Homo sapiens: one gene and its partners. The protein of the gene in region 1 interacts with the protein of each later gene in a biochemical or structural test. Each region holds a gene or a part of one and is shown in the gene's direction. Other genes may lie near its edges. The genes, in order: EIF3B, NREP, RPS6KB1 and EIF3A.

What was found.
Region 2: the proteins of EIF3B (region 1) and NREP form a complex in vitro, tested with the Homo sapiens proteins (one study listed by BioGRID).
Region 3: of the proteins of EIF3B (region 1) and RPS6KB1, one has a biochemical effect on the other in vitro, tested with the Homo sapiens proteins (one study listed by BioGRID).
Region 4: the proteins of EIF3B (region 1) and EIF3A interact in far-western blotting, tested with the Homo sapiens proteins (one study listed by BioGRID).

What each region holds. Positions count from the first base shown.
Region 1 is NC_000007.14:2,370,439-2,379,369, forward strand, and holds part of EIF3B (eukaryotic translation initiation factor 3 subunit B), read left to right. Parts: intron 1-1,338; coding exon 1,339-1,411; intron 1,412-2,234; coding exon 2,235-2,357; intron 2,358-4,089; coding exon 4,090-4,168; intron 4,169-4,950; coding exon 4,951-5,089; intron 5,090-6,511; coding exon 6,512-6,637; intron 6,638-8,250; coding exon 8,251-8,328; intron 8,329-8,695; coding exon 8,696-8,804; intron 8,805-8,931.
Region 2 is NC_000005.10:111,731,912-111,740,842, reverse strand, and holds part of NREP (neuronal regeneration-related protein), read left to right. Parts: intron 1-1,116; exon of another isoform or gene 1,117-2,539; intron 2,540-5,335; coding exon 5,336-5,413; intron 5,414-5,996; exon of another isoform or gene 5,997-8,931. UniProt on the Homo sapiens protein: May have roles in neural function. Ectopic expression augments motility of gliomas. Also promotes axonal regeneration. May also have functions in cellular differentiation.
Region 3 is NC_000017.11:59,894,791-59,903,721, forward strand, and holds part of RPS6KB1 (ribosomal protein S6 kinase beta-1), read left to right. Parts: intron 1-8,931. UniProt on the Homo sapiens protein: Serine/threonine-protein kinase that acts downstream of mTOR signaling in response to growth factors and nutrients to promote cell proliferation, cell growth and cell cycle progression.
Region 4 is NC_000010.11:119,031,814-119,036,392, reverse strand, and holds the end of EIF3A (eukaryotic translation initiation factor 3 subunit A), read left to right. Parts: intron 1-124; coding exon 125-354; 3' UTR 355-2,723; downstream 2,724-4,579. UniProt on the Homo sapiens protein: RNA-binding component of the eukaryotic translation initiation factor 3 (eIF-3) complex, which is required for several steps in the initiation of protein synthesis.

The sequences.
Region 1 (8,931 bases):
CCACTGCACCCCAGCCTGGCGACAGAGCCAGACTGCGTCTCACAAAAAAAAAGAAATTCCTGAGTTTTCCCTCTAATAGAAGTATTCTTCTTTCTTTTATGTTAAGAAAGCTTTAATTGACATGTAGTTCACATGCCTGAAAACACCCCTTTAGAGTGGTGAACTGGTTCAGTGGTTTTTCGTGTGTTCAGAGTTATGCAGCCACCACCACTCATTTCAGAACGTTTTCATCGGCTGGGTGCGGTGGCTCCCCCGGGGTGGGAGGGAGGATAGCTTGAGGCTAGGAGTTTCAGACCAGCCTGGGAAACACAGTGAGACCCCATCTCCACAGATAATTTTTAAAAGATAGGAAAAAGGCCGGGCACGGTGGCTCACGCCTGTAATCCCAGCACTTTGGGAGGCTGAGGCGGGGCATCACAAGGTCAGGAGATCGAGGGTTTAGTAGAAACCCCGTCTCTACTAAAAATGCAAAAAATTAGCCAGGCGTGGTGGCGGGTGCCTGTAGTCCCAGCTACTCGGGAGGCTGAGGCAGGAGAATGGCGTGAACCCGGGAGGCGGAGCTTGCAGTGAGCCGAGATTGCACCACTGCACTCCAGCCTGGGCAACAGAGTGAGACTCCGTCTCAAAAATAAATAAATAAATAAATGTTTTTGTCACCCTACAAAGAAACAACATACCTGTTAGCAGCCTCTCCGCCCAGCTCCTGGCATCACGAATGTCTATGATTTCCCTATTCTGAACACACAGCTGGAATCGGATACTATGCCACCTTCTGTGTTTGACCTCCTTCACGGAGCACAGCGTTCCCACAGCTGGTCCACGGTGCTGAGTGTCAGCAGTAATCTCTTGTTGGGTGGACCCCGTTTCTTGGCCTCCTTCCTCTGTTGATGGACATCAGGGCAGTTTTCCCTCAGACTCCTCGAGTAGGGCAGGACTTCTTGAAGGTTATGGCTACAGGACACCCCACTGTCTGAAGTGGTTTACCCAGCCCCATTGGTGTGCCTTTAGGGCCCTCAGGACCCTGGCCTGCAGCCTGCAGTGTGGACCCTGGGACTGCTTGTGCCCAAGTGTGGCGGGCAGGGCGGCTCCTGGAGGTGGGATCTGGGTCAGAGTTACTTCATGCATGTCCAGTGGCTTCCAGTAGACGTGGTGCCGGCAGTTCTCCAGCCTTAGAACCGTCTTCCATCCTGAGGGCTGTGGCTTTCATCACTGCACATGCTCGTGTGTGAACCAGGCATGCACACTGAATCTTTCATTGTGACGTTGATCTTTGATTTAAACCTTTTCTCATATTTTCACTGTCCAGAATGTCACCCCTTCCCCCTTTTTTTTAAACAGGGTGTTGTCACAAATTTTGAAATTTTCCGAATGAGGGAGAAACAGGTACCTGTGGATGTGGTCGAGATGAAAGGCAAGTTGTATTTTAGTCACTTTGAGGCGAATGGGGCCTACGTGCTGTTTTACTCTTGGCTTTAACACTTCCATGCGAGGGGTTGTCTGAGCAGCTGAGTCAGGACTGTGAGCCCTCACCATGAATAGTCATCTCCAGGTCACAGAACGTGTTTAGAGCCTGGGCAACATAGTGAGACCCTCTCTGTACAAAAAACAAATAAAAAAAATTAGCCAGGTGTGGTGGTGCGCACCGATAGTCCCAGCTGTTTGAGACGCTGAAGCGGGAGGATCACTTGAGCCCAGGAGCAGAGGTTGCAGTGAACTGAGATTGCGCCCCTGCACTCCAGCCTGGGTGACGGAGCAAGACCCTGTCTAAAAAAAAGAGAAAAGAGATTGAGCCTGTGTTCTTGTTTGGCTTTTTGTTTTGCCATGGAGAAAAGGAGGAAGGAAGGGTTAAAAATAGGTGAGAAAATGGGAAACATGGCCGCCCTTCCAGGCAGGGAGACCGGAGGTCAGGATCCCACTGTAGGTGCACACTGGGTGCGAGGGAAGCGGCATCCACAGCTGCTGACAATGTCGGGCTCCTGCGGTCCTGCTGTGGGTGTCCTGCTCTCAGGAAGGGAGCAGTTTCACGTAGGTCACTCCACACAAGTGGAAGCAGCTGTCTCTGAAACTCCAGGAATGTGCACCTTTCCTGCTGTTGCTTGCTCTCCCGTCCTTTTAATGAACTTTTACACGTCGGGGGATATTTCTCTGTGGTTGAATAGTGAACATTTTAACTGATCAAGAGCACTATGTTCTGAATTGACCAAAAAGGGAGGGGTCTGTTTTGTGCATTTTAGAAACCATCATAGCCTTTGCCTGGGAACCAAATGGAAGTAAGTTTGCTGTGCTGCACGGAGAGGCTCCGCGGATATCTGTGTCTTTCTACCACGTCAAAAACAACGGGAAGATTGAACTCATCAGTAAGTAACCTGGTCCCTTTCCTCTTCTGAGTAGGTCAGCACAGATGATGACCCAGTCGCTGCCCAACAGTGAGCATTTGACTGGCCTAGGACCACTGCTGGGCAGGCCGGGACTCGCCTATGAATGGGGTGTGGCCTCGGCTGATGGAAGTGAGCGATGGCCTGGAGGTGCCGCCTCCTTGCAGGGTGTCTCTCTGAGCCCCGTTGAGCCCTCACGTTTAAGCGAGTATTTCCAAGGCTTCCATTCTCTGCCATCATCTCAAGTGAAGCTTTTTCTCTTCTGGCTGTAGCTGCTGTCCCTGGGCTTGGGGTCACTTCCTGTGGACATACTCCTGCCAGTCCCCAGTCTGGGTCAGGTGCCTTTGACCAGGGTGCGCAGAGCTGTTGCACACAGCTGTACTCTGCCCCCGTGCACCCGGTTCCAGGGGTGCCACACTGCACCCACCTGGGGCTCGCTCCTCACAGTGGTGCGTGGGCCCTCGCCTGTCTCACGGCACCTGCTGCCTGTGCCCTCAGCTCCTCACTTCATCCTGGGGTCTCTGCTCAGCACAGAGCCCGGTGCCCGCGGGGATTGAATGAGCCATTGCTTGTTGCTTCATAGGCGTGGGGTGTGTGTGTGTGGTAGCCAGGAGGTGGCGATGGGCTGTGTTCCTCACACAGGACTCTGGCTGCCAGCTGCCCTCCTGCAGAGCCATGGGTTTGGCTCTGTACCAGGAAGGGGTTGGAATCTCCTGGCCGCACCTTTCGCAGCATGATTCTGTGAGGAGTTTAGTTTTCACTTTGCTAGAGCTTGGCAGGGTGCGTGGTGCCCTCAGTTGGCAGTGGATTACAAGATTGGCTGTTTCATTAATTCTGGTTGATAGAAACATATGGGCAATTGCAGACTGTCCAGAGACTTGTGTAAGTCTTCTAGGTCATAAAACATAGGCAAGCAGAGGCACCTTGTACCTTCCAAACATGCTGCGTGACACGCCTCTCCTGAGGTTTGGCATGGACGCTGGGGCCACCGCATGGGCTCCATCCCATGCCCGTGGCTGTTGGGGTTTTCGCTTGTGCAAGTCTGAGACCCCTGCCCCTGCCAGGGTGCACTGCCCTCCCACATCTCCTCCCCTCCTCCCCACGTCAGCCTGCCCCATGCCTCTTTTTTGGATGTACCACAGGCTGAGGGGAGAGAGGCCACAGGTTGTCAGCTCTGTTTGAGATGCAGGGAGCATATGCTCTGAGGGGGACTTGAGCCAGCCCCAGCTGGCCTTCACTTCTCACTGTTCCAGCGGCTCTGCCCGAGATCCATTCCGGAAGTAAGAGTTAGTACCTGCAAAGATGATGACTGTAGTCAGTTTCAACAAGCATACAGCTTATCCAAAGACGCCTTGTCGCTAGGAGAGTGGCTTTGGTCTTTTGGGGTCACACGTCTCTGACATCTCTCTGTTGGGGTCCCTGCAGCAGTGAACATTTGCTGTAAAGGGAATTCTTTGTCCAGTTACCTCAGGAAATAAGATAGTATTGTTTTGAAATACCCCTGTCGCATCTTCTTTTTTTTCCCATTTAAAGTATGGATCATGACTTAGGGGGTACTTGGCGATGGACTTTGTAAAATTGTTTTCCGAGGTGGTCCAGCATTACCAGCTCTGCCCTCATGGGCAGCATGAGCACGGCCAAGTCCTCCAGCCTTGGCTGCCCCGGCACTGTGGAAGCCCTCGCAGCTCGTGACAGGCGCGCTCTTTCCTTTCAGAGATGTTCGACAAGCAGCAGGCGAACACCATCTTCTGGAGCCCCCAAGGACAGTTCGTGGTGTTGGCGGGCCTGAGGAGGTAGGTGTCTGCGCTCTGAGCCTGTCCGCCCTGTGAGTAGCGCTCTGCTGTGGCAGAGACCCCTCAGGCGCCTGCACCCGGCTTCTTGGTAGAGAGAGTATTGTGCGCTGAAAGGGTTGCCCCAGTGTCAGTGGATAGGACTTCATTGAACCTCTGCAGACCCACGGTACTCCAGGACTCAGGCCAAGCCCGCACAGAGTGAAATAAGCGCTCCCAGATGCTTTCGTGAAGTGACCAGGCAGACCTGTCTGCGGGTTGTGGTTCTCTGTGGTTAAACAAGTGCCTTCCAGCCATCCAGTAACCTCCCCCCGGGGGTCAGTCCCTTGTCTTCTAGTGGGAAGGGTATTCGTTACACAGCTGTGAGGCTGCCTTACCTTTGTGGTTGGTGTCACGGTGTCGGTCTCAGCTGTGTTCCAGCAGTGTGTCGAAATCATGGAGAAGCTTCCAGCTTTCTGCTCTGAGTTAAAAGAATACCCTTTTGTTGCTGCTCTCCCTTGCTTCATTGTCCACACTTGCTACTGTATTTTTGGAGGCTTACTTAGCCTCAGATAACATTTCCAGTAAAAATAATATGATGGCAGTCATATGTAATACTCACTGCACACTCTGCATCTGTGATTTGGTAAGTCTCACAGCGGCCACCAGAGGCTGTTGCTGTGCTTGTTTCCATGTTAACGCCGAGGCTGGCTCCCTGGGGACCCCATGCCGCAGCACCTCTCAGGAGTGGGATGCCAGGAGGTATGCGTCTCCATGAAGCCTGACGGTCCTGTCTGTCTTTGCAGTATGAACGGTGCCTTAGCGTTTGTGGACACTTCGGACTGCACGGTCATGAACATCGCAGAGCACTACATGGCTTCCGACGTCGAATGGGATCCTACTGGGCGCTACGTCGTCACCTCTGTGTCCTGGTGGAGCCATAAGGTGCAGGCCTGTGGGGCATAGTTTTGACTGTGGATAGAAGCAGGGAGTGCTGGCTAGCTGCTGACTCTGGTGCTGTCCTGGGACCTCAGGGAAGGGGCACCAAGCCTCTGTGTTGAACAGAAGCCTTGGCTGGTGTTAGTGGCAGGAGGAGGAGGATTCTGGGTTGTAGAAGAGGTGGCGCCGAGTGCAGGAGCAGCCCCTGCTCATGGTTGCGGGGAGGTGGGGGGTCTTACCCTGGGCCCAGGGACCCCTGAAAAGGAGTGAGAATGTCTGCAGAGAGGAGTCGTTTCCTTTGAAGTCTGAACAGAGTTCCATAACCGCAGACATTAAGATCTGTTTTGGGGTCAGTGGTTGAGTCCAGCTGCCGCGTTACCCACAACTCGTATTCCAAAACTGCTGGTTAAGTTTGTCAAGGACTTTCAGTATTTAGTGACTTGTAAAAACATTGATGGAGGCACTGATACTTGAACTAGTCCATGCCAATAGAGCCTGTGAAACCAAACGCGGGTAATTTTGTTTAATGAGATACAGAATTTGTAGGAATATCAACTTCCCAAATGTTACTGCAAGTGTCTAGAGTTAGAAATCTTCGCATTCGAATCAGGATATGTTGATCACAGCCTGTGTCCAGGTATGTTCAGATGTCACTGCGGTGGGGCCTGCCTTGACACTTGAAATCACTTTAGGCCAGGCACAGTGGCTCACACCTGTAATCCCAGCACTTCAGGAGGCAGAGGTAGAAAAATCACTTGAACCCAGGAGTTTGAGACTAGCCTGAGCAACATAGCGAAACCCTAGCCCCATTAAAAAAAAAAAAAAAAAAAAGACTTTTTAAGCTGTTGACCACTCTCCTTGAGTTATGAACACTTAGCTTCCAAAATGCCGGCCTGCAACAAGGAGTTTATGCTGAGTGCCAGTGAAGGCGCCCTCCTTCATGAGAGAGGCCTGCCATGAGGAGAGCGGAACTAGGCGGCGTGTAGTGATGCAGTTAGCTTACATCCAGCACAGGGCTCCGCACAGCTCACACCCGGCCCAGGGCTCAGCAGTGAGTAGTGCTATGCAGTTAGCTTACGTTTGGCACAGGGTTCAGTCCAGTTTAAATCCAGCACGGGGTTCAGCGGCGCAGTAGTGAGGCAGTTAGCTTACATCCAGCATGGGGTTCTTATTGCCAGCCAGAATGTGCAGGCCTGTGCTGTGATGAGCGCTGCTCCAGCTGCTCCGTGCCCCGCACTCCGGGTCGGTTGCATAATGGAGGTGTCTTGCATTGACTGCCCACCTACCCTGCTGTCAGCTCAGCACAGGCAGAGCTTTGTTTGCTTCACACGTGTCCCCGATACCCAGGACCTTGTTCAGCAAGTGACATAGTCACGGTTGTGGCTCTCTGACCCCTCTGTGTCCTGGTGTGTCCCTGCCCTGGCCTAGGTGGACAACGCGTACTGGCTGTGGACTTTCCAGGGACGCCTCCTGCAGAAGAACAACAAGGACCGCTTCTGCCAGCTGCTGTGGCGGCCCCGGCCTCCCACACTCCTGAGCCAGGAACAGATCAAGGTCAGCATGCCCCCACCCCCGGGTGCAGGGCACATGGAGGCAATTGTGGCGTTGAAAAGGTGTCAGTTTTTTCTGTTATTGTTAGGGTGGTGACTGGGGGATAAAAACGTGACATTTGCAAGGATTCTTTGAAGAGACGCAGGAACAGTGAGAACTGAATGGAATAGAACAGCTTTAGGATAGTAACTTGAGGCTTTCAGCTTCTTTAGGGAAGTTTTGCATGAACCCGAGGGGTGGATAAAAAGATGCCAGGGCCATTAAAAAGTCCTGCTGGGATTAGAAGCGGCTTGTCTGGGATTTACATTATTGTGGTAAAATAGGCCGTTGGTCTTAGGTCAGAGCAAAGAGGAGGGTTAAATCCCAGGGAGAAAGTCCGTCTCAAAGTGAAAGATGGAGGAAGGAGCAGGCACGAGCGCTCCTGGGATGCTGTGTTGTGTGAATGACCCTGGGTGTCAAGGAGGAAGGAGCAGGCACGAGCGCTCCTGGGATGCTGTGTTCTGTGAATGACCCTGGGTGTCATGGAGGAAGGAGCAGGCGCGAGCTCTCCTGGGAATCCGTGTTCTGTGAATGACCCTGGGTGTCAAGGAGGAAGGAGCAGGCGCGAGCGCTCCTGGGATGCTGTGTTCTGTGAATGACCCTGGGTGTCATGGAGGAAGGAGCAGGCGCGAGCGCTCCTGGGATGCTGTGTTCTGTGAATGACCCTGGGTGTCATGGAGGAAGGAGCAGGCGCGAGCTCTCCTGGGAATCCGTGTTCTGTGAATGACCCTGGGTGTCAAGGAGGAAGGAGCAGGCGCGAGCGCTCCTGGGAAGCCGTGTTGTGTGAATGACCCTGGGTGTCGAGGAAGGAGAAGGCGCGAGCACTGCTGGGATGCCGTGTTCTGTGAATGACCCTGGGTGTCATGGAGGAAGGAGCAGGCGCGAGCTCTCCTGGGATGCTGTGTTCTGTGAATGACCCTGGGTGTCATGGAGGAAGGAGCAGGCACGAGCGCTCCTGGGATGCTGTGTTCTGTGAATGACCCTGGGTGTCATGGAGGAAGGAGCAGGCGCGAGCTCTCCTGGGAATCCGTGTTCTGTGAATGACCCTGGGTGTCAAGGAGGAAGGAGCAGGCGCGAGCGCTCCTGGGAAGCCGTGTTGTGTGAATGACCCTGGGTGTCGAGGAAGGAGAAGGCGCGAGCACTGCTGGGATGCTGTGTTGTGTGAATGACCCTCGGTGTCATGGAGGAAGGAACAGGCGAGCGTTCCTGGGATGCTGTGTTGTGTGAATGACCCTTGGTGTCATGGAGGAAGGAACAGGCGAGCGCTCCTGGGATGCTGTGTTGTGTGAATGACCCTGGGTGTCATGGAGGAAGGAGCAGGCGCGAGCGCTCCTGGGAAGCTGTGTTGTGTGAATGACCCTGGGTGTCATGGAGGAAGGAGCAGGCGCGAGTGCTGCTGGGAAGCTGTGTTGTGTGAATGACCCTGGGTGTCATGGAGAAAGGAGCATGCGAGCGCTCCTGGGAAGCTGTGTTCTGTGAATGGCTTTGGGTGTCATGTCATGTTGGCAACTCTGAAGATTGCATTTGTGCTTGTTGCTTTGAATGTTAAATCCTGAGTGATGGGTCTTTTGTTTCAGCAAATTAAAAAGGATCTGAAGAAATACTCTAAGATCTTTGAACAGAAGGATCGTTTGAGTCAGTCCAAAGCCTCAAAGGTGAGCCTCATTCCCAAAATGAGGGCTGTGCTGTGACATCCGCCATCATGGCAAAGGCGGGGCTGCGGGGAGCTGCTGTGTATGTGCTCAGAGTTGCCTCTGCTCCGAAGACACTGGTTCTGTTCCCCCCCAGGAGGGATGCACTGGGGAACTGGGGTTGGCACGGGGACTTGGAGTTGGTGACCTCACTGCTGCCTTGTGGGTGGGGGGCAGCGTTGGGGGAAAAGTGAGAATGAATGGACTAGCCATTCCTGCTTGAGTGCCTCTGTATGCTGTCCTTCTGGCACCGTCCGCCTGGGTGTGGGCTCTTCGCGATGGGGAGGCACTTGTCTTACCAGTTCTGTGCTTTCCCCAACCTCATGCATAGGAATTGGTGGAGAGAAGGCGCACCATGATGGAAGATTTCCGGAAGTACCGGAAAATGGCCCAGGAGCTCTATATGGAGCAGAAAAACGAGCGCCTGGAGTTGCGAGGAGGTAACTTAGAGATCCCTCAGTCCCCAGGAGCTGGCCCTTACGCTGCCCCTGGGCCCTGGTGCCCGCGGACTCCTGCGTTCCTTCCCACTGGCCTCGGCGGTGCCACTAGGCATGTGCCCCCATGGGT
Region 2 (8,931 bases), on another chromosome or scaffold:
TAGATATGATTCAAATTTTACCTGCAATGTAGTAGAAGTGATAGGAAACATGTCCGAGAACTTTTAGATTGATTCTGTATTTGGACCATGCCATTGAAAAATAAATAGCAAATTTTGAAATGAAAAGCTTAAAAAGTGTTTGAAAAATAATTTAAGCAATAATCTAGTTTGCATATTTTTTAGGACCTTGGGGGACTGGTCTCTGAATTTTCCCACATTTCATTTTTCTCATTTGGAGCACTAGTTGTCAGCTATTAATAATAGTTTATACTAAGCAATAATTACCGGTGAGCTAATTACTTTATAGACTTTAAAAATGCAGTTATTTTTCATGATGCACTGTCCAAAGAGTAAAACAAGCCTCAAAAGAAAGGAAAGAAGGAAGGGAGGGACAAAACCCTGAGTATTTTATTTCCAATTTGTATGCTGTGATAGAATATTGAAACTTACCCAACTATCAATACATTCAAGAGAATCAGTACGAAATAGCACATTTTCACTATAAGTAATATTTAAATATATAGTGGGTTTAAGTATATTAATTATACCCAAAAGCATAAAATTGGTATTTCCTAAGAATTGATCAAGGATATCTAAATACAAGTCATGATTAGTATATTTTAAACCAGTGTGGTTCTTTATGACGTTCTGTTGTTTTTCAACCTAATTGTCAGTGAGATAAATATAGCATCATAGAAAAAGATGCATTAACCAATATATTCAGTGACAAGTATAAACACTCAAACTTCCCCAGAATTCAAACAAAACTGTTGCATATTCTCCAAATTAAAGTAACAAAATTTTCCTTCCCTCTACTTTTTTTTTTTTAACTAGCATTTTTGTTTTCTCAATTGTTGAAGGTACGATTTGCTTTTCTGATTTTCTAATAGACTTCTGGAAGAATAGTATTCTAGAGGGTTTTGAGGATTTTATTTGGGCAAAAACAATTGTTTATTGTATACATGGAAAAAGCAGTTTTAAAAGAAGACATACTTTTTGTGAAGATTAATGCAAACTTTGGTTTGTTTAATGAAACAACAGTTTTGAGGTATTCCCATACCCAGAACGCTTAAATTTTCTAGATGCAAACCACCGAAACAACAATAGAGAATTCAATGAAGTGTCAAAAAGAAAGTTAATTTAATTGGCCTTCATGAAAAACACAAACTTGAATTCAGACAATGAATGAATGGAATGCAGTATCAGCCACGTGTCCATGTTTGGAGTGTCAGTTGATGAGCACCAAGAAGAATGGGCAGCTTTACAGTTCAGCAAGCACAGATGGACTCTAGATAGATGGATCAGCTTACCAGTTTTCTGACCCTCATATTATCAGCACTCAAAAGCTTCAGTGATAGGGTCATTGTCAGTTCCTAATATTCTGAACTAGTTAGAAAACTGAGGGCACAGAAACTCATGGGTTCATGTGGGTCTTGTTACTGCTGTGGCCCCTAGGAGCTGCAGGGAGACCTGGCTACAGGGCCACTTGCCTGCATGGAGCTTATTCTGCACTTATCCCTCACCCTTCTATCATCTTCCTTGGCTGATTCTGACAGCCATCAAATGCCCTCCCAGATGTGCTCACTGCCACCCCCATTTCCTTTGTTGACAGCACTACTGGATATTATGCTAAATGTTGGTTTTGTTTGTTGTTTAGTCTGTTGATAGATGTTCCAGCAGCTATTACATTTGACTTAACCTATATATTTCTTTTTTGTTGTTGCCCTTAAAAAGCACACTGTGTTTAGTTTGCGAGGGCTGCCATAACAAAGTGCCACAGACTGGGCAGCTTACACAACAGAAATTTATTTTCTAACAATCTGGACGCTGGAAGTCTGAGATCAAGATGTTGGCAGGGTTGGTTTCTTCTGAGGCCTCCCTTCTGGGCTTGTAGATGGCTGTCTTCTCCCTGTGTCTTCATATGGTCTTTCCTCTGTGTATCTGTGTCCTAATCTCTTCTTAGAAGGACATGGGTCACTTGAGATTAGGGCCCACCCTGATGATGTCCTTATTTTAACTTAATTGCCTCTGCAAAGATCCTGTTTCCAAATACAATCACATTCTGAGGTATTGGTGGTTAGGACTTCCCCATATGAATTTTGAGGTGATACAAGTCAGCCCATAACACATTTTTAAAAGTAAATTTTTGTGGATTGATCACCCCTGCTGTACCTGCCCCACCCCCAGACGTGAGCATCTAGAAGGCAGAAACTCTGTTTCTCTTGCAATTCCCACAACCTAACAGTGTCCAGCACTTTGCAGCTATTTCATGAACTCTTGCTGCATGAATGCAAAAAAGGTTGGTAAGAAACTTGAAGTTGAAAAGTGGCACTATTTCTGACTGCCAGAAGTAGCACCTGGCGAGTAGACTAGAACATGTTCCGATGAGAAGAAGAGGCAAAGAAAATACAGTACATTTAAACCGAGACAGCTTTTGACAGAAAGGCAAATGATTGTTGCTTGGGATCACCCATTCTCCACATCCAGCACTGGGAATGGAATGGAAGTTCAGGCCCTTGCGGAATACCAAAGGTCAGGTCTGAATCATTTGAGAGCAAAGGTAATTAATGATTGTCAATAGATCTTTTCTCTTAAGCTCTTCACTTTAGAGTCTCAAAATACTGCAGGTATAAGAAAGAACAATGCTGTAATGCAGATAGATCATATTTGTTTCCAGTAATTTACCACGGTTTCTTAAAACTAGCTGTGCTTAAAAAAATGAAAAGTTTAAATATCTCCTTTAGGTACTATGTCTAGGGATATGCTGAGTTCTTAGATACCAGCCAAGCAGGTTTTAAGAATGTAACTGAGACTCCTCTGTCCCTGCCATTTTTGGCTTAAGGTTCTGACTTTGAAGGAGATTGGAAAACTACCAGAAGGCCAAAGCAACGTTCATTTTTCTAAAAGTATACAATGATTACTTGATGATTCAAATACTAAAAAATGCCTAATGTGCTAAAAATGCCTAATAGTGAAAAAAAAAGCCTTGGTCAGTGTAACAAATATGAAGTAAGGGAGAAAGTTTCCTTAGTCATGTGTGTTTTGCTGTCAGATATTCATGTTCCCAAGTTCTTTGGCAAAAGTCATTGGCTTTTTTTTTGTTTTTGTTTTTGTTTTTTTTTTTTTTAGCAAATGGAGAGTTCTTAGAACAACAGATTGTTAGAATAGGTGTAATAATTTCTGAAAGGCAAGCTATTTTCCCCTACAAATTAGACTTTGGTGGTTTTAGTAATGATGCTTAGAAGTTAAATGTTAAAGCAGTGTCATTTCGTTAAAATGGAATATCCCAGAAAAGCACAAGAACGCAAGAATGACAATACTTACCTGACCTTGCTTTTCTTTGCTTCCTGTGCCTACAAAGTTTTTACATGTACTTTTATCAACGTTTTTGGTTTCCAACAGAACTTAATTTCTCACTAATATTTTAAGACTGTACTTGAAATATGATTTTTAAAGTGGTAATATAGAAATGTAATCACTTTATATCCATTTATATGAAGTGAATTTAACAGTAGATTCAAACTTGGGGTCCCCTAAAGTTGAGCCCAAACTGGGCTTTTGTGTGCTGTGACTTTGTTATAAGTCTGAAAAAAGCTTGTGTATTTGAGATTATTTTGTTTTCTTCACCCATTCCTGGATAAAGGAAATGTCAGAAGTGGCTGCTTGTCCCAAACAAGGCAGATGGTGGATTACTTTCTGAAGGAGCTGGGCACAGGAGAGGAATATGTGGAAAAGTAAGGTGGTTGGGGTGAGGGGAACCACATGGCTCAGAAAACAGACCCAGTCCAAAAAGAAAATAGTTCTAGCTCTTGCAGAATGAGCTCTCTTTAAGACCCAAACGTGGGTGGCGGCTGTGGACTGGTATAATTTTGAGGGAGTGGTGGTAGGCGATTTGCATTCTGGGATAATGCGAGGGCAGCAGGATAGTGGAAGGAACTGAAGTTTAGAATCTGGAAACCTAGTGTGAGTTTCAGTCCTACCCTACACTACCTGTGTGACTTGGGGCAAGTCGACCTTTTTGAGTTTCAATTTCTTCATTTGTTTAATGATAAGACCAATATTATTGGCTTATCATCAGGACAAATTAAGTAATGTATGCAAAATTGCTTTGTAAGCTAGGATGTGCTACAAATGTCACTGGTGTAGAGCAAAGATAGTTAGTTACTGTTCAATTATTCCGAAGAGTGAACACACTTAGCCATCTACATTTCCTACCCTAGATTCCCTGACAAAATGGATTGATCGGGGTATACCAAGCATTACAGTCAACTCAATGATTAGGTTACCTCAATTACGGCTTCCAAAACCAAAATGTAAACACACATCTAAGTCTGTTTGTTAATCTGTTAATGAGGTGTGACTCTTAATTGTTGTTTATTAAATGTGAGGCTTATTTATTGCAGAATTTGGAGAATCTGATCTGGAGGGAATCTTACCTAATTTCACTCTGCTTTCAATCAGAACTATATTAAATGTGAATTAGCCCTGACAGATGGTTGTTGGATTCTGTTTCTAAATTTTTTAAAGAAGATTTCACAGTTTTTCTCTAATTTCTTTTAGTAATTTGACAATTCTTATGCTGAGTTCTTCCTTAGAGCTGACCCAAATCTTAGTTGTAATTTTAAGGCCTTTCCCCTCTCCTGTCATTACTTGAAGATGGAGAACAGCTGGTCGGCAACCTTATGCTAATCATCCTTTGTATATTTAAAGAAGAGTTACTCAGTTCCACTCCCTCGCTCCACCCCCTCCCACCACCGAATTCATCAGCTAGTATTCTCTGAATCATTCATGGTGATGACACCTATCTCCCGCCCCTCCCTCAGACACTTGGCTGTTTCAGGCAGCTGGGCAGAATGTGTTGTCACTGGCCACATGGACTTGGAGAGAATCTGGGCTGCTGCTTTCTTTCCTCTTTTATTTTATTCATAATCTTTGGCCTTCTAATAAATGATCAGAATAACCCTTAACAGTGTTTGATGGAGTTTTGCAAGGATACTTATAGAATCCTTTGAAAGTTAGACCTCCCCGATGACTTAGTGCACTCAGCCAGACATACCATGAAGCTGCTACTTTGCCTGCTAAAAATAACATTGATTGATATCTCTGCTTTATTGGACTTAATCTTGGAAGACATCGAGCTGAAACTCTCCTGAGTGCAGTGCGTGTTCAGAAGCACACTAACAGTTTGAAAGAGTTAATGGTTTCCCCAGTGCTCTAAGTGGTAGTCGGGAATAAGTAACCATTGAGGAGAATTGAGCTCATTAAGGTTATCCCGTGTAGTTTCAGAGTGGATCCTGTTTTTAATCTGAATGTGTATGCTTTTGTGTCTCTATAGGTTTATTACCCAGAACTCTTTGTCTGGGTCAGTCAAGAACCATTTCCAAACAAGGACATGGAGGGAAGGCTTCCTAAGGTAAGATCCTTAGATGCCATATTGTTAACACTATTTTCAATATAGAAACAATTGTTTTAAAATATCAGAGCTTTTTCATTTGAATACCCATTATAGGCTGCTATAACAATCCATTAATCTGATACTATGATGACCTTGGAAATAATGTACTTTTAAAAAATATCCTAAAGTCCTATGACTTAAAGTTCACATTATCTTCCTTCATAAATGAAAAATTTTCATTTAAAACATGGAATCAGTTTATCAAAGTACAGTTTACAGGTTTTAAGTCTGTTCCATTTCTGGTTAGACAAACTCAAATACAATGATCAAACTAAAAGATTTCTTAAAAGTATGATGACTATTAATTGTCTGCTAATGAAGTCTGAAGGTCTGATAAGATTATCCATGAAGCAAAAGGGAGGAACAAAAAAACTGTTACATTTCTTTCTTCTAATTTTTGAGCCTAAAAACCATTTTTTATAAACGTGGTTTCATTGTTCTGACATCTTAGGTGTGGCAGTTCTCTGCCTCAAGAAAATTTGTAAAATTTATATTTTAGATTTTAGCATAATTTCTGAAACAAACAATAACAACTACTTACCAGTTTTTACTGTAGATACTGGACTTTGCCTCTTAGGGTGAATACTTGTTTGACTTCAAGCGGGGAGAGTATACTTTTTAACCAATGACTTGCTGATTTTGCAGTTAAGAAAGAAAAACAGAATCCACTGAAAATAAAATTTCTATTTGAAAGTTTCATAAGTGTAATTGACTAACGGTGAGTCCTCCCCCAGCTGTTACTGGTATTTCAATGTTTAAGAAATTATTTTATTTACACTAAATAGTATCAACAATTCCCTATCTTATACTGGCAGGCAGAAACTGAAGAGGTTGTATCAACTGGCAGTTTGCACTGAAAGAAAACAATCTTAAATCACTTTTAATCTTGCAGAGCATTTTTGAAGGTCAAGGTTGAAATCACTGGCAGGAAAGTAGGTGAACAAAATGGTTTGACCCTGCCTGAACTAGACTTGCACTGATTTGTAGAGCTGGAGTGGAAGAGAGCTAAAATAGTAGCGCTTTCCTTAAAAGACACCCACACCCCACCACCTCACCAGCAGCACACCAGCGGCACGAGCAGTATAACCACAGACATTCGTCACTGTGCCAGATCAGGGCATAATTCTCTTAAGGCAGCTGAGGCCTTCACATTAGTTCTTGCCTCATTCAGGCATCCAGAGGTCCTCTCTCTTTGATACTGGTGACATAAACCAGAGGGGCAAGACTAGGCATAGTTCCTTGATGAGTTCAGTGGTGCCTCACCGTACCCTTAGAAAGCCAGCCCTGCTGTGCTAGGTCTTGTCTCACACAAAGACATGCTCCCAGGGGTGGGCACCGTGGATCATGGTATTCAGGTCTTCTGCTATTTTAAGTTCTTTCTTCTCTAAATATGTGAATAATATTTTAAGCATAGTGTTATTTGTTCTTTTTCCAGAAGTTCCCTTCTGGAAAAGCATATCTTTGTATAATTGTAGGAAAAATAATCTTGACTTACTTGGTCCAAAGCACATTATTAACTGGGGATTAATTTCCTAGTAGTCATCTGTCGGGAGGGCTGATCCACCCCGAGGCACATTAACTGGCGTGACTTTCAGGACGGCGGGGCTGTGGGAGCCACTGGACACATCTGCCCCCCAACCCCTAGCCTCTTGAATTACTCAAGTCCCTCAGCTCTGTTGGCACAAATACGTGCTGGATGATAGAAGAACCGTTTTTCCCATGGATGAACTTTTTTTGGCTTGAATTCTTACAAGGCCTGACTTCTGGATCTGGAGAAAGAAGACTTCTTTGTGTCCCATCTTCAAAATGCCTCCTCCACTTGTTGCAGAAGCCTAAAATTCCTTTAGTTGGGGCAGAAAGCCTATTATTATTTAAAAAAAAAAAAAATAGTGGGAGGGTGTGTGGATTGAAATCAGTCAGGGGAAGAGGATTGAAATCTAGTAAATGCAGGACTCCATAGGGAGAACGCACAGAACTCTGTCTCCTCAGGAGCACCTCTCTCCACGGGCATGGTGGGCTCCAGGCCCTCAGGGTGCTTCAGTAGCACACCTCCCTGTGGGCCCTACTACCATTGCCTCATGAGGGTCCAGTCTGTATGCTTGTCTTCCACACAGCAAGTTAATGAAGGGTGAGATGGGCAGGGACTGTTACTGTTTCTGTTTCAATCTCTCTCTAAGCTTGAAATCGAATAGAGTACTCCAGCCATAGTAGGCACTCAGAAAATGAATAATTAATGAAGAAATGTATATTATCTGGGACCTTGAAACAGAAAAAATGGTAAAAATGGTAAATTCAAATCTGAAATAATCGTCACTTTCTTTTTTTCTGGAAGTGCCTCTTCCCAAATCCCTAGCTCTTCCTTTTGTTTTGTTGTGTATGTTTCATGGAGGTAGAAGATTAGTACTGAGACTGAGATTTAAATAGAGAGATACACTAACGTTCTGTATATTCACTTTTGAACAGAGTAAGTCTGAACTGGAGCAGTTTTAAGGCAAGCTGTGTAAAGACTATAATTGTTGAGTTAACATTTATCAACTTTTGGTTTTCCTTCTTTTCTTGCCTGTGACAATTAACAGCCATTGAACTCTTCATTTGTCCAAAACCTAAGTTTGTCCTATCCTGAACCATGGTAACTGGTTGACTGTGGGGTGAGGTGGGGTCGGGCTGGCAGCATTATTTTAAAGACACTGGGATTACAGTGGATTTCCTTTTTTTTTTTTTTTTTTTAAATTTTGGGACTGTGTACCAAGATTCCAAGATTGAAATTATTTTCACAACTGCAAGTAACTACCCAATATTATGCTTTTGGAAATTGAATCTAGACCCTTAAGGGTGTGTGAGTGGTGAATTATATTTTTATTTAATTTTCTGGTTTGGTCCCATTGGTATTTAATGATACCAAAACAACCTCTAAAATCACAACCTAAGATTGGAATATTAAAGTACATCATGGTTATATATGTGCAAAAAATGCTGTATGCTCTCAAAGTCCGAGACTTTTAAGTAAAAAATTGAGGCATACCAGATGTTTAATATGGAAAATCTGTACAGTAAGTAAGACTTTTTAAAGTTGAATAATCTGTTGCATTTAGTTCACCCCTGGGTTGCTGAAAATATTTATTCAATTTCAAGTTGTTTGGAAGTTACTGGTTTCTGAATTCTTAAAAAGAAATTCAGATGTGTTAATTTATAGGCCACAAAGTAAGATTATCACTTTAATCCAAGTACTTTACATCTAGTCAAACTGGCTTATTAAAACTGTCTTGTTAGAACATGTGACTTGAGCAACAAAAAAAAAAGCCCACATGTTTTAAAACCACAAAGGATAATTTCTTCCAAGAAAATGTCAGTAATTAAAACTCCAGAGTTCAGCTGAAAGAGAGACCATCGTCAAATCTTCACTGTGTTCATACCTGTACAGGGCATAAAATCTATCTGTTGTAAATGAATACCTGTATTGTGCATCATGTGGGCAG
Region 3 (8,931 bases), on another chromosome or scaffold:
GACAGGGTTTCACCATATTGGCCAGGCTGTTCTCGGACTCCTGACCTCAAATGATCCACCAGCCTCGGCCTCCCAAAATGCTGGGATTATAGGCATAAACCACCATACCTGACCAATACTGTTCTTTTCATAATCAAATAAGACTAAATCAAAATCACACGGTTTAGAAAGTGGGTATTGAGTTGTGTGCTTTTTCTTTTCTTTTCTTTTCTTTTCTTTCTTTCTGGTTTTTTTGTTTTGTTTTGTTTTTGAGACAGTCTTGCTCTGTCACCCAGGCTGGAATGCAGTGGCGTGATCTCAGCTCACTGCAACCTCTGCCTCCTGGGTTCAAGCGATTCTCCTGCCTCAGCCTCCTGAGTAGCTGGGACTACAGGCGCGTGCCACCACACCTGGCTAATTTTTTGTATTTTTAGTAGAGATGGAGTTTCACTGTGTTAGCCAGGATGGTCACGATCTCTTGACCTCGTAATCTGCCCGCCTCGGCCTCCCAAAGTGCTAGGATTACAGGTGTGAGCCACTGCGCCTGGCTTTTTTTTTTTTTTTTTTTTTGAGACAGGGTCTTCCTCTGTCACCCAGGCTGGAGTGCAGTGGTGCGATCTCGGCTCACTGCAGCCTCTGCCTCCCAGGTTCAAGCGATTCTCCTACCTCAGCCTCCCAAGTAGCTGGGATTACAGGGGCGCGCCACATCACCTGGCTACTTTTTTTGTATTTTAGTAGAGATGGGGTTTCACCATGTGGCCCAGGCTGGTCTTGAACATCTGACCTCAGGTGATCACCTGCCTCAGTCTCCCAAAGTGCTGGGATTACAGGTGTGAGCCACCCCACCAGGCTTTTTACTTTATTTTATTTTAATTTTTTTTGAGATGGAGTCTCACTGTGTAGCCCAAGCTGGAATGCAGTGGCCTGATCTCGGCTCACTGCAGCCTCCGCCTCCTGAGCTCAAGCGATTCTCGTGCCTCAGCCTTCCGAGTAGCTGGGACTACAGGCGCGCACCACCATGCCTGGCTAATTGTTTGTATTTTAGTAGAGATGGGGTTTCACCATGTTGCCCAGGGTGGGCCTGAACTCCTGAGCTCCAGCAATCTGCCAGCCTTGGCCTCTCAAAGTGCTGGGATTACAGGCGTGAGCCACTGCATCCGGTTGGTGTGTGCTTTTTCAATGATGTTTTCATGCAGAATTCCAATTAGCCTCTTAATCGAACATAATGGTACACTAGTTACAATTGGAAACAAATATGAGATTACTTTCATTATTTATACCATATACCATACTCTTTATCAGTTATGTTGGTTCTCTATGACAGTGGCTTTGGAGCAGGGCAGGGGAGAAAACTGGATAGGAAGGTGCTTTATATCTTCATTAGTTGAACTGATAGAATTTCCAGACTGGGTTTATTTTATTTTATTTTTTTTTCTTTTCTGAGACAGAGTCTTGCTCTATTTGCCCAGGCTGGAGTGCAATGGCGCTATCTCGGCTCACTGCAGCCTCCACTTCCCGGGTTCAAGCGATTCTCCTGCCTCAGCCTCCCGAGTAGCTGGGATTACAGGCACCCGCCACCAGGCCCGGCTAATTTTTGTATTTTTAGTAGAGACGGGGTTTCTCCATGTTGGTCAGGCTGGTCCGGAACTTCCAAACTTGGGTGATCTGCCTGCCTTGGCCTCTCAAAATACAGGTGTGAGCCACCGCACCCAGCCAGGTTTATTCTTTTTTGAAAGTACAGTACTCTGTTAAAATTCCTGTGTAAACTGGGACTTTTCTTTTCACTTTCTTGTGTTTCAAGAACAGTAGGTGTTCCAGGGCTTTTGTCCTGCTGGGTACAAGCAAGTAGGATTTTGAGAAGGTGTGAGGAGGAGGTCAGAAAAATTGGTGGAAATAGGAAAGAGAAAGAAATATGGCCCCGATTTTGGGGAGAGAAAGTCTGGGGAAAGAGCAAAGGCAATTAAAGAGGATTTTGAGGAAGAGACTTCTGTAAAATATGTCTTAGCAACACTTTTTGGAGTTGAAAATATTTCTTTTTAGTGTGTTATTTTTTCTAAGAGGTGCCTCAAGATGGATAATGGAAGATTTGGAGTACGATTGGGTTGACAATCCAAGGAGATTCGGTGACATCCAGATTACCCTGAAATAAAAAAAAAAAAAAATTCTGGAAAATGAGAGAAGTTTAGATTCTTAGAAAATCTTCTGATAGTTTCTATTTGTGAATTTATAGACTTTAATTTATTACACAAAGTTTTTAAACATTGGTGCATATCAGTTTTCCTCATTTTATAGTAAGGAAACTGAGGCATAGGCCATATGATAGCCAAAGATCACATAGTGGTAGTGTCTTCTGACTTAATTCAGCAGGCTTCATTGCACAGGTTCTTCATTGCATTTACTAGTTGTGTTTATAATGTTCCTCTTTGTGGTATGTCAAAAGTGAATTCAGATTCCTTTGGCCATACTCACTCTGTGACCTGGAGTAAATTCCTTAATCTCTAATGTTTTCTATAACATGAGGGTTACATTAAATAAGTACGTAAAGTACAGTACTCTCAAAATATCCTGGCGTATTAAGCAATTAGCTAGTTCACAGAAATTCAGCTTGTCTTGTCATTGCTAAGGAACCAATCATTCAGGTTTAACCTCGTATACCTAGAGACTTAATAATTGCAGTTAAACTCGAGGTGCTGTATTTTTACAACTGTAGTATCATAGTGTGTATTTTTTTTTAAAACTAATTGATCCCGTTTAGAGAGATGTGCCTTTCAAGGTACGTTACAGAGTGACTATGCGTTAGTAAATATAGGTATTTCCATAGTTTATTTAATTAGAGATTAAAAGATGAGACTAAATGATACATTTATGGACAAAGTTGAATATCTGCCACCTAACTTAAAAAAGATCCTGTTTAAGGCCGGGCACAGTGGCTCATGCCTGTAATCCCAGCACTTTGGGAGGCCGAGGCAGGTGGATCACGATGTCAGGAGCAGGAGACCAGCCTGGCCAATATGGTGAAACCCAGTTTCTACTAAAAATACAAAAATTAGCCAGGCATGGTGGTGCACACCTCTAGTCCCAGCTATTCAGGAGGCTGAGGCAGGAGAATCTCTTGAACCTGGGAGGTGGAGGTTGCAGTGAGCCAAGATCATACCACTGCACTCCAGCCTGGGCGACACAGTGAGATTCCGTCTCAAAAAAAAAAAAAAAAGATTCTGTTTAAATATCTCAGAGGAATATAATCAAAGCCTATTGGTAAGAGGGGAGTTTTTGGGCGGAGGGTGTCTTTTTTGTTTGTTTTTTTGTTTCACTGTTGATGATATCATTTGGGGCAGTAAATTGAAACTAAGGAAAAGTTTTCCTTCAGAGAATTTAGATTGCAAAAATGTTGGAATCTTCTCTGCTCTCTATAGCATTAAGAGTAGTAGAAAACTGTAATGCAATTTAAAAAATTCTCACTTTGTACTCTAATTCAAAATTTGAAATAATCACGCAGGCTTACTGTACAAGTTTCAGATTGGGACATCAGATTTTTATTGAGTAAAAGGTTTAAAATTTTTGAAAACCAAAGTGCTATATAGATAGTATATACTCAAATATTCATGATTATGAAAAATTATAGAAAAAATATCAATACTTATCTTGCTTTGTAATATATACTTACTATAAAGCAGCAACTTTTTTTTATTTTTTATTTTTTTGAGACGGAGTTTTGCTCTTGTGGCCCAGGCTGGAGTGCAGTGGTGCGATCTCGGCTCACTGCAACCTCTGCCTCCTGGGTTCAAGCTATTCTCCTGCCTCAGCCTCCCGAGTAGCTGGGATTACAGGTGCCGACTACCACACCCAGCTAATTTTTTGTATTTTTTTGGTAGAGACGGGGTTTCACCATGTTGGCCAGGCTGGTCTCAAACTCTTGACTTCAGGCGATACACCTGCCTCGGCCTCCCAAAGTGCTGGGATTACAGGCATGAGCCACCGTGCCCGGCCAGCAGCAACTATTTTTAAATAGCCCAAGAGTTTAGGCAAAGTTCTACCCTTTCTTCCATTTCCTCTAAGTTACTGAATCTTGTCAATCCTAATGAACACAGCAGACATTGGATAGGCCATAAAGCTTAAGGCAGCAGAAAAAAATTAGGAGTAAAGAGTTTCCTGGCCAGGCGGGGTGGCTCATGCCTGTAATCCCAGCACTTTGGGAGGCCAAGGTGGGCAGATCACCTGAGGTCAGGGGTTCGAGACCAGCCTGGCCAACATGGTGAAAACCCCGTCTCTATTAAAAATACAAAAATTAGCCGGGCCTGGTGTCAGGCACCTGTAATCCCAGCTACTCGGGAGGCTGAGGCAGGAGAATCACTTGAACCTGGGAGGCAGAGGTTGCAGTGAGCCAAGATCGCGCCATTGTTCTCCAGCCTGGGGGACAAGAGCAAGACTTCGTCTCAGAAAAAAAAAAAAAAGGAGTAAAGAGTTTCCTGTGAAAGAGAGTTGTCAGTATGTATTACATAATGTTATTTGACACTTCTTGTGTGAGCCTTCTAGAGGTAACACTGAGTAGCAGGAAAGATTTGTGCCTCAAATGCTTCTGTCCTAGACAGTAACGGTAGAAGTTATTAGCACAATATGCAGGTGCCAGCATTATAGGTCTGGCCAGCTTAGGAAATGAAACATAGCTACAGGGCGTATCTTGTGAGGTGGCTTCAAAATCATGGTCCAGTCTTAACTACTCTGTAGTCTTTAATTTAGAATTAAGTAAAACTAACATTAAAGAAAAAACAATTATGTAATACCAGTTTTATCACATCTGGAAGAAGTTAGTCTTTTGTCATAAAAGTGAAGCCATCCTAGGCGATTACGTAGAGCAACAAAGACAAAAAAAACCTTTAACCATGACCACCCCCATATCCCACACATAAAAGAAACTGTATCCAGTTAAAATGGTGAGAATTGGTTTTTTCCCCCTTGATACTGCCCCATCTCTTTGCCTGGGTATAATCATGAAGTGTACATTCCTGGTATTACATGTTATCGTGATTTGGTCACACCATGAGTGAGTTATGACTAAAATTTTGTGTTTTGGGGGCATTTGAACATTTATTCTATAAGAATACTATCAGTTTTTGGCTGGGTATGATAGCTCGTGCCTGTAATCCCAGAACTTTGGGAAGCTAAGGTGGAAGGATCATTTGAGGCCAAGAGTTCGAGACCAACCTGGCCAACAAAACAAGACCCTATCTGTACAAAAAATTAAAAAAATAAATAGTGGGCATAGTAGCACACAGCACACGCCTGGCACTAGTGACTCCAGAGGCTGAGAAGAGATGATCACTGGAGCCCAGGAGTTTGAGGATGCAATGAGCTATTATCCTACTACAGCACTCCAGCCTGGGTGACAGAAACCTAATTGCTAAACACACACACACACACACACACACACACACACACACACACACACACACACACACACACACCCCTATGTGTTTTTGTTGTGTATGTTGGCTGTGTACTGGTAGTTTTGAAGAAAGATATATTCACTTTAATATCTTAACTACTCTAAAGTTTTGACATGATTGCTTAAAGACTTGTAATGTTTTAGAGTCTATTTTCTTTTTCTTTTTTTTTGAGATGGAGTCTCACTCTTGTCATCCAGCCTGGAGTGCAATGGCGCGATCTTGGCTCACTGCAACCTCCACCTCCTGGGTTCAAGCGATTCTCTTTCCTCAGCCTCCTGAGTAGCTAGGATTACAAGTGCCCGCCACCAGGCCTGGCTAATTTTTGTATTTTTAGTAGAGGCGGGGTTTCTCCATGTTGGCCAGGCTGGTCTCGAACTCCCAATCTCAGGTGATCCGCCTGCCTTGGCCCCAAAGTGCTGGGATTACAGGCGTGAGCCACGCGCCTGGCCTGGAGTCTATTTTAAATTAATTAGTATCCTTTCGTGTAAACTGAGAGTTCATAATCAGATTAGATTGATTTTAAAGCTATATATTATAATGTCAGTAACTGAAATTCTGCTGCCAAGTTTTTTGTTGTTTTTTGTTTATACAATTCAGTGACTTTGAGTATATTTACAGAGTTGTGCAGCCATCACCAAAATTAGGTTTTAGAAATTTTTACCACTCGGCCGGGCGCAGTGGCTCAGGCCTGTAATCTCAGTACTTTGGGAGGCCAAGGCAGATGGATCACTTGAAGTTGGGAGTTCAAGACTAGCCTGGCCAACATGGTAAAATCCTGTCTCTACTAATAATACAAAAATACCCAGGCGTGGTGGTGCATGCCTGTAATCCCAGCTACTTGGGAGACTGAGGCAGGAGAATCACTTGAACTTGGGAGGTGGAGTTTCCCATGAGCCGAGATTGCACCACTGCATTCCAGCCTGGGCAACAGAGTGAGACCTTGCATTTTTTTTTGAGACGGAGTCTCGCTCTGTTGCCCAGGCTGGAGTACAGTGGCGCGATCTCGGCTCACTGCAAGCTCCGCCTCCCAGGTTCACGCCATTCTCCTGCCTCAGCCTCCCGAGTAGCTGGGACTACAGGTGCCCGCCACCACGCCCGGCTAATGTTTTGTATTTTTAGTAGAGACGGGGTTTCACCGTGTTAGCCAGGATGGTCTCGATCTCCTGACCTTGCAATCCGCCCGCCTCAGCCTCCTAAAGTGCTGGGATTACAGGCGTGAGCCACCGCGCCTGGCCGAGACTCCATCTTAAAAAAAAAAAAAGGAAATTTTTATCACCCTATAAAGAAATTTTGGGGCTGGGCATGGTGGCTTACGCCTGTAATCCCAGTACTTTGGGAGGCCAAGGCAGATGGAGCGCATGAGCCTAGGAGTTTGAAATCAGCCTGGGCAGCATAACAGCACCCTGTCTCTGAAAAAAAAAAAAAAAAAAAAAGAAAAAAAAAGAAACAGAGTTTTGGCCAATTTAGTTACTTCTGATTCTCACCCTCAGCCCCAGGCAACTAACCTATTTCTCATCTCTATAGATTTGGCTTTTCTAGGCCCAGTGTGGCTCATACCTGTGATCCCAACACTTTGGGAGGCCGAGGCAGGAGGATCACTTGAGACTAGCCTGGGCAACATAGTGAGACCCGTGTCTCTACGAAAAATAGAAAAAAATTATCCGTCTTGGTGGTGTGCGGCTGTAGTCTCAGCTGCTTGGAAGGCTGAGGTTGGAGGATCGCTTGAGTCTCCAAGGTTGAGTTTGCCGTGATCCTGCCACTGCACTTCAACCTGCGCAACAGAATGAGAACCTGTCTCTAAAAAAAAAAAAAAAAAAAGCTTTTTCTGGACATTCCATATAAATGGAATCATATAGTGTATGACCTTTTATATTTGGTGGCTTTCACTTTTTTTTTTTTTTTTTTTTTTGAGATGGAGTCTCACTCTATCACCTAGGCTGGAGTGCAGTGGTGTGATCTCTGCTCACTGCAACCTCTGCCTCCTGGGTTCAAGTAATTTTCCTGCCTCACCCTCCTGAGTAGCTGGGACCACAGGTGTGCGCCACCACACCTGGCTAATTTTTGTATTTTTAGTAGAGATGGGGTTTTGCCATGTTAGCCAGGCTGGTCTCAAACTCCTGACCTCAAGTGATCCGCCTGCCTTGGCCTCTCAAAGTGCTGGGATTACAGGCGTGAGCCACAGCATAAAGTTTTTGAAGATCATTTATGTTGTAACATGTATCAGTACTTCATTTCTTTTTAGGGCCAAATAGTTATTCTGTTTTATGGCTACAGTGCATTTTGTTTATCCATTTACCGGTTGATGTTCATTTGAGTTATTCATTCAGATGTTCAACTGAATTGTGAATAAAGCATTTTTTGTTTCTTTTTTTTTTTTTTTTGGAGATAGGGTCTCACTCCGTTGCCCATGCTGTAGTGCAGTGGCGTGAAAAAGCTCGCTGCAGCTTCACCCTCCTGGGCTGAAGTAATTCTTCTGCCTCAGTCTCTCATGTAGCTGGGACCACAGGCACGTGCCACCATTCCCAGCTAATTTTTTGATTTGTTGCAGAGATGGGGGTCTCGTGATTTTGTCCCGGTTGGTTTTAAACTCCTGGCCTCAAGCAATTCTTCTGCCTCTGCCTCCCAAAGTGTTAGGATTATAGGCATGAGCCACCTCCTCGCCTGGCCTGAATAAACCTTTTAGAAGGCTGGGTGTGGGGGCTCATGCCTATAATCCTAGCACTGTGGGAGGCTGAGGCAGGTGGATCGCTGGAGTCCAGGAATTCCAGACCGGCCTGGGCAACGTGATGAAACCTGTTCTCTACAAAAAATGAGCCGATGCTGGGCATGGTGGCCTGTATTCCCAGCACTTTGGGAGGCCGAGCTGGGTGGATCATGAAGTCAAGAGTTTAAGACCAGTCTGGCCAAGATGCTGAAACCCCATCTCTACTAAAAATACAAAAATTAGCCGGGCGTGGTGGCGGGTGCCTGTAATCCCAGCTACTCAGGAGGCTGAGGCAAAGAATTGCTTGAACCTGGGAGGCAGAGGTTGCAGTGACCCGAGATAGCACCACTGCACTCCAGCCTGGGCAACAGAGTGAGACTCTGTCTCAAAAAAAAAAAAGAAAAAAAAAGAGCCGAGCATGGTGCTATGCACTTGTAGTCCCAGCTGTTCGGGAGGCTGAAGTGGGAGGATCACCTGAGTCCAGGAGGTTGAGGCTGCAGTGAGCCATGATCGCACCACTGCACTCCAGCCTGGGTGATAGAGTGACACCCTGTCTCAAAAAGAAAAAAAAGAAAAAAAAGTTTTTATGAACATTATTGCCCAGATCTTTGTGGAGCATATACTTTTCATTTCTTTTGAGTAGATACATTGGAGTAGATTTGCTGGGTCATGCAGTAGTAAGTCTATGTTTAATTTTTTAAGAGACGAACTTTTCCAACACGGTTGCACCATTTTACATTCTCACTAGCACTGTATGAGGGTTCCAGTTTCTCTCATCCTCCCCCAACTTACTTTTCCTCTTTA
Region 4 (4,579 bases), on another chromosome or scaffold:
ACAGAATTTCTGTATTTAACAATGATTTCTGTATTTAACAATCTTTAGTACAGGAATTTTGAGTAATTTGAGCCAATAGAATATAGTACTAACTTAATTTTTTTTTTTTAATTAAACTTTTTAGTAAGTTCTTGGAGACGTGCTGATGACAGGAAAGATGACCGGGTGGAAGAGCGGGACCCTCCTCGTCGAGTTCCTCCCCCAGCTCTTTCAAGAGACCGAGAAAGAGACCGAGACCGAGAAAGAGAAGGTGAAAAAGAGAAGGCCTCATGGAGAGCTGAGAAAGATAGGGAATCTCTCCGTCGTACTAAAAATGAGACTGATGAAGATGGATGGACCACAGTACGACGTTAAGTCTCAAGATAATGGATTTAAACTGGTGTCTTAAATAGGTTTGATCACATTCAAGGATTATTATACTTGTGCTTCAACCAATCTAAATTGGATTCTTTAATGTTGTTTCACCATAACACAAAAAGCATGAACTTGTATTAATCCTATATAATAGATTGATCATGCACCATATCCACAGGAGGTTGGAAAAACCATGCCATTTTCTGGAATTTAAGGGTGTTGCATTATTTCATCAATCATTTGTTGACAAAAAAGAAAAACTAAAAAATAAATTTAAAATGTGACCCTTCAGGTATTGAGTAACACCTTTATCTTGGTATAGAACTGATACTTTTTTTTTGATTTTGAAATATCTGATAATAATTTGGAATGAAGTAAGGTTCTGTTAAAATATATTTGAAGACCCTTTAAAGCAGTGAATCTGAAACAATTTTCACACCCTTAAGTGGTTGATACGTACCTATTTTAGGTATTTTGAGGTATTTACCATAAACTAAATTTAGAAATTTTTTAGATTCACTTGAAGTAAACATTACAAACATTGGATACGGTGGGGTTTTCTTTAGATTTTACTTGAGAGAAGGTGAGTACAAAGCAATTTGCAGTTGTTGTAATGACAAGATTACTGCGCAAGTGTGAATCCAAACAGTATAGCTTTTAAATTTTAAAGCATTTGGTAAATTATCGCTGAGTTTTTTTCTGTTGCCAATAGCAAACTGCTTTTCCATTAATGGAGAATTCATGCCTTTCAAGCATTTTAAATATGACAATATTTATAAATGTATGGTTTGGAGGAATCGTTTAAATTCTCTTTCCTAATTTTCTTTCTTTTGAAGATAGATTCTTTCAACAAGTAATTTGTAGTAATGACTGTGTTGACTTCAATTTTGGAGCGCAGTAGCTATGTTAAAGATGAACTATTTGGTCTCATTGAAGCCAACACAGAACTTGCTGCTGTGTTTTTTCTTCAGTGATAAATAAAATACTTACAGAATTTGTTTTAGTGTTGATTTGTGGTTATAGTATTTTGTTTATAATGGTAAGTTTGCATATTCAGTTGAGTTTTTTTTACTTGAATTTTTATCAGTGCCATTAAATGTCTGTGTTTAGTATCAATGAAAATGAACCTAAATATAACAAAGAAAGCATATGTGGCTAGGATGTCCCCCTAACATGTCTTCCTTTGTTAATGCAGGAATTCCTTAGTTTCCTTGTAACGCTGTCCTCTGAGTTTGTGTGTGCATGTGCGTGTTTGAAGTACCACCTTGGGTTTTCACCTGAAATTAGAAAAATCGTAGTTAATTTGAGAAAATGTTACAAATTCATCATGGCTGTAGGCACTTATTTCTGTTATTGAGTAGTGGTGAGAATTCCTATTGGTACAGCTGTAGGGCCAGAAGAGGGAGTATTGATGCTTTTTAACTTAACCAGATGCAGCTATTTTTGTTTGATGTTACCAATGATAGAAATCATTTTAAACACCTTAGTATCTGGTATTTCAAATACGTAGAAGTCTTTAAAGGTCTTTCGTGGGGAGAAGGACTTTTCTTTCATAACAAGAGAATTTCAGATCAGTGATTACAAGTGGGGCAGTAACTTGCTAAGAGTTTGCTTCCTGGAGAGTAGATCTGTATGTGTGACATCACAGGTAAGCCCCAAGAATTTATTTAATCAGATTTGTTCAGACGAGTTACTGCTGCCTACGTTAGAGTTAGATTTCAAGGCGAGTCAGCAAACCCATCCTTTCTGCTCAGTCTCCCGTACTGTTCTCCCAAGTTCTTTGTTCTGGGAGTCAGAACCCAAGTGCAAGAGGAGGGCAGAAGAGTCTGATGCTGTTACTTTGCGATCCTGCTCTTGGTTTCCACTGTCCAGGCCATACAACTCTGTCTACTCCCATTAGTATTTACCAACAGGTGTTAAAGGAAAGCTGAACAAGCAGCCTACTCACCGATCTGCTAGGTGGTCTTCCATGTTCATGGTGGCTTCTGCAGTTTCATTGAGAGTAACATTGCTGTTAATACAGATAGATCCAGTAGTAGAGACATCATCGGTCCAAAAGACTTTGCATCTCATTAGTTGTCCATAGTGACTACCAGGAGGTGGCTGGCATCTATAACGTGTGGGACGTTTTTATGTAAAGAACTGCCTGTGTTTTTTTTTTTTTTTAACCAAAGACACTGACCATAGATTGACTTATACTTTTATAAGTCTAATTGAAATACTTGGGGTACTATGAAAGGACTGTTCCTTGAGTGGCTACGATTAGAAAATCAGGACTAACAAACTTTTCTTTGTCTGGAAGCATATATATTTGTGATATAATTTTAATATGTATAATTTTGGTTTAATAAATCAAATCTATGACAAAAGTTGTTCTCATCAAAGCTAATAATTCTGCAACTTCCAAAAAGGACTTTGTAGGAAAATTAAAATACAAAGAAAAATAAAAGCCACTAGAAATTTTAAGTCTGTACAGAAAAGAACAGGTTAAGACAATCTGTACCTCTACAGTTGGAGAAGCCCTTTTGACTCTTCCCTGTATTGTTTTGCTACTAGGCAAGTATGCAGCATGTTCTTATGAAGATAATTTTGTCATACTTTGTATATTTCTTAAACTTTGAAAAATTGGGTTTCTCTAAATGTAATTTTGCAAAATGTTTAAAGTTCCACATTGAGTTCCAAGGATTTTTAAATGAATGTGTTTACATATACTTTTCATAAGAGAACCCTAGAAAATTAACTATAGTAATACTCTGCGTTTTAACTCCCAGTATTCATTGTCAGCTGGAAAACCTAGGCAAATTTGGCACAGGGGCTGAACATGGGGTACTTTTTTTCTTTTTTGGAGACAGAGTCGCTCTGTTGCTCAGGCTGGAGTGCAGTGGCGTGATCTGGGCTCACTGCAACCTCCGCCTCCTGGTTTCAAGCAATTCTCCTGCCTCAGCCTCCTGAGGAGCTGGGATTACAGGCGCCCACCACACCACCCGGCTAATTTTTGTATTTTTAGTAGAGACGGGGCTTCGCCATGTTGGCCAGGCTGGTCTCCTGACCTTGTGATCCACCCCCGCCTCGCCTCCCAAAGTGCTGGGATTACAGGCATGAGCCACCACACCCGGCCTGAAAATGGGGTACTTTAAAAATAGATGAATAGTGGCTGCCTGAGTAGTGGAGAGGGTCTTCTGGATTCCTTTTCCAATACTCTCCTGCCCTCAAGAAGCTCCAGCTCAATATGTTCTTAGTTCTGGTAAAATAGCAATGTCAGAATATCAAATTAACATTAGGCACATCTCATCACAGTGACTCCCATATATTGAGGCTATGCCAAAGCCCCATGCTCAAGACCTTTGGAAACCGTCTGTAATTTGACTCTGAAAATACAAAGTAGCTAAATTGATCTTGCCACCTGGCTAGCCCTTTTGGCCTAGAGAATGCGCTGATCTGTTCATAGTGGTCCTTTTGAAAAGGCAGAACACGAGCAGTGAGAGAGGTAAGAGGATTCATGTTGACCTTAGAAACTTCACCCAGAAGGTGAAGCTCATTTAAACTGGTAGATTTTCTATAGCAAAAGAAAGGAGAACAAGTAATTACATGGTTTCATTAAGCTACTTAATTTAGGCCCAGTCAGATCTGCAGTTCTCTCTGGTCTGGGGTTAAGACTAGCAGCGTTGGATTATTTGTCTTTCCTGGCTAAGAAACATTGTGCTTTCCTCCTGCCCCCCAAGTTCTTGAAATGCACCTTTTCTTTCACCAAAAAGACAGCTATCGGGTATTTACCCCATCCTCTAACACACCTTCAAATGAAGGTTCCTGATTGAGTCAATTTGCTGTGGATGAAGTTAGCTGTTTAATGCGAAAGCAGTCTAACTTCTAGTAGCCTAGCTAAATCCTACTGGGAGCCTTATACACGTAGACTAAACTCTTGCTGGTATCTTCAGATAGTAATGCATTTGTGTATTTCAGATGAGTTCATCTTAATTCACTTCCATTTTTTGCCTTCTATTGCCTTGCTTGGCAGGTAGCTGCATTCCATAGTGTGGCATTCAGTATGGTGGATTTAAAAGTGAGGGTGGGAGGGTAAAGTAGGGGTTAGGAACTTTTGCCCAAGGATCAGGTTTAGTCTTGCTTATGGGTAAACTGGTGGGGTTCCGGAAACCGACATGGGTCTTCCAGTAGGAGTGGGAACACATGAAGGACCCCCAACAATTCCTTTAATTAGTGCTTATTC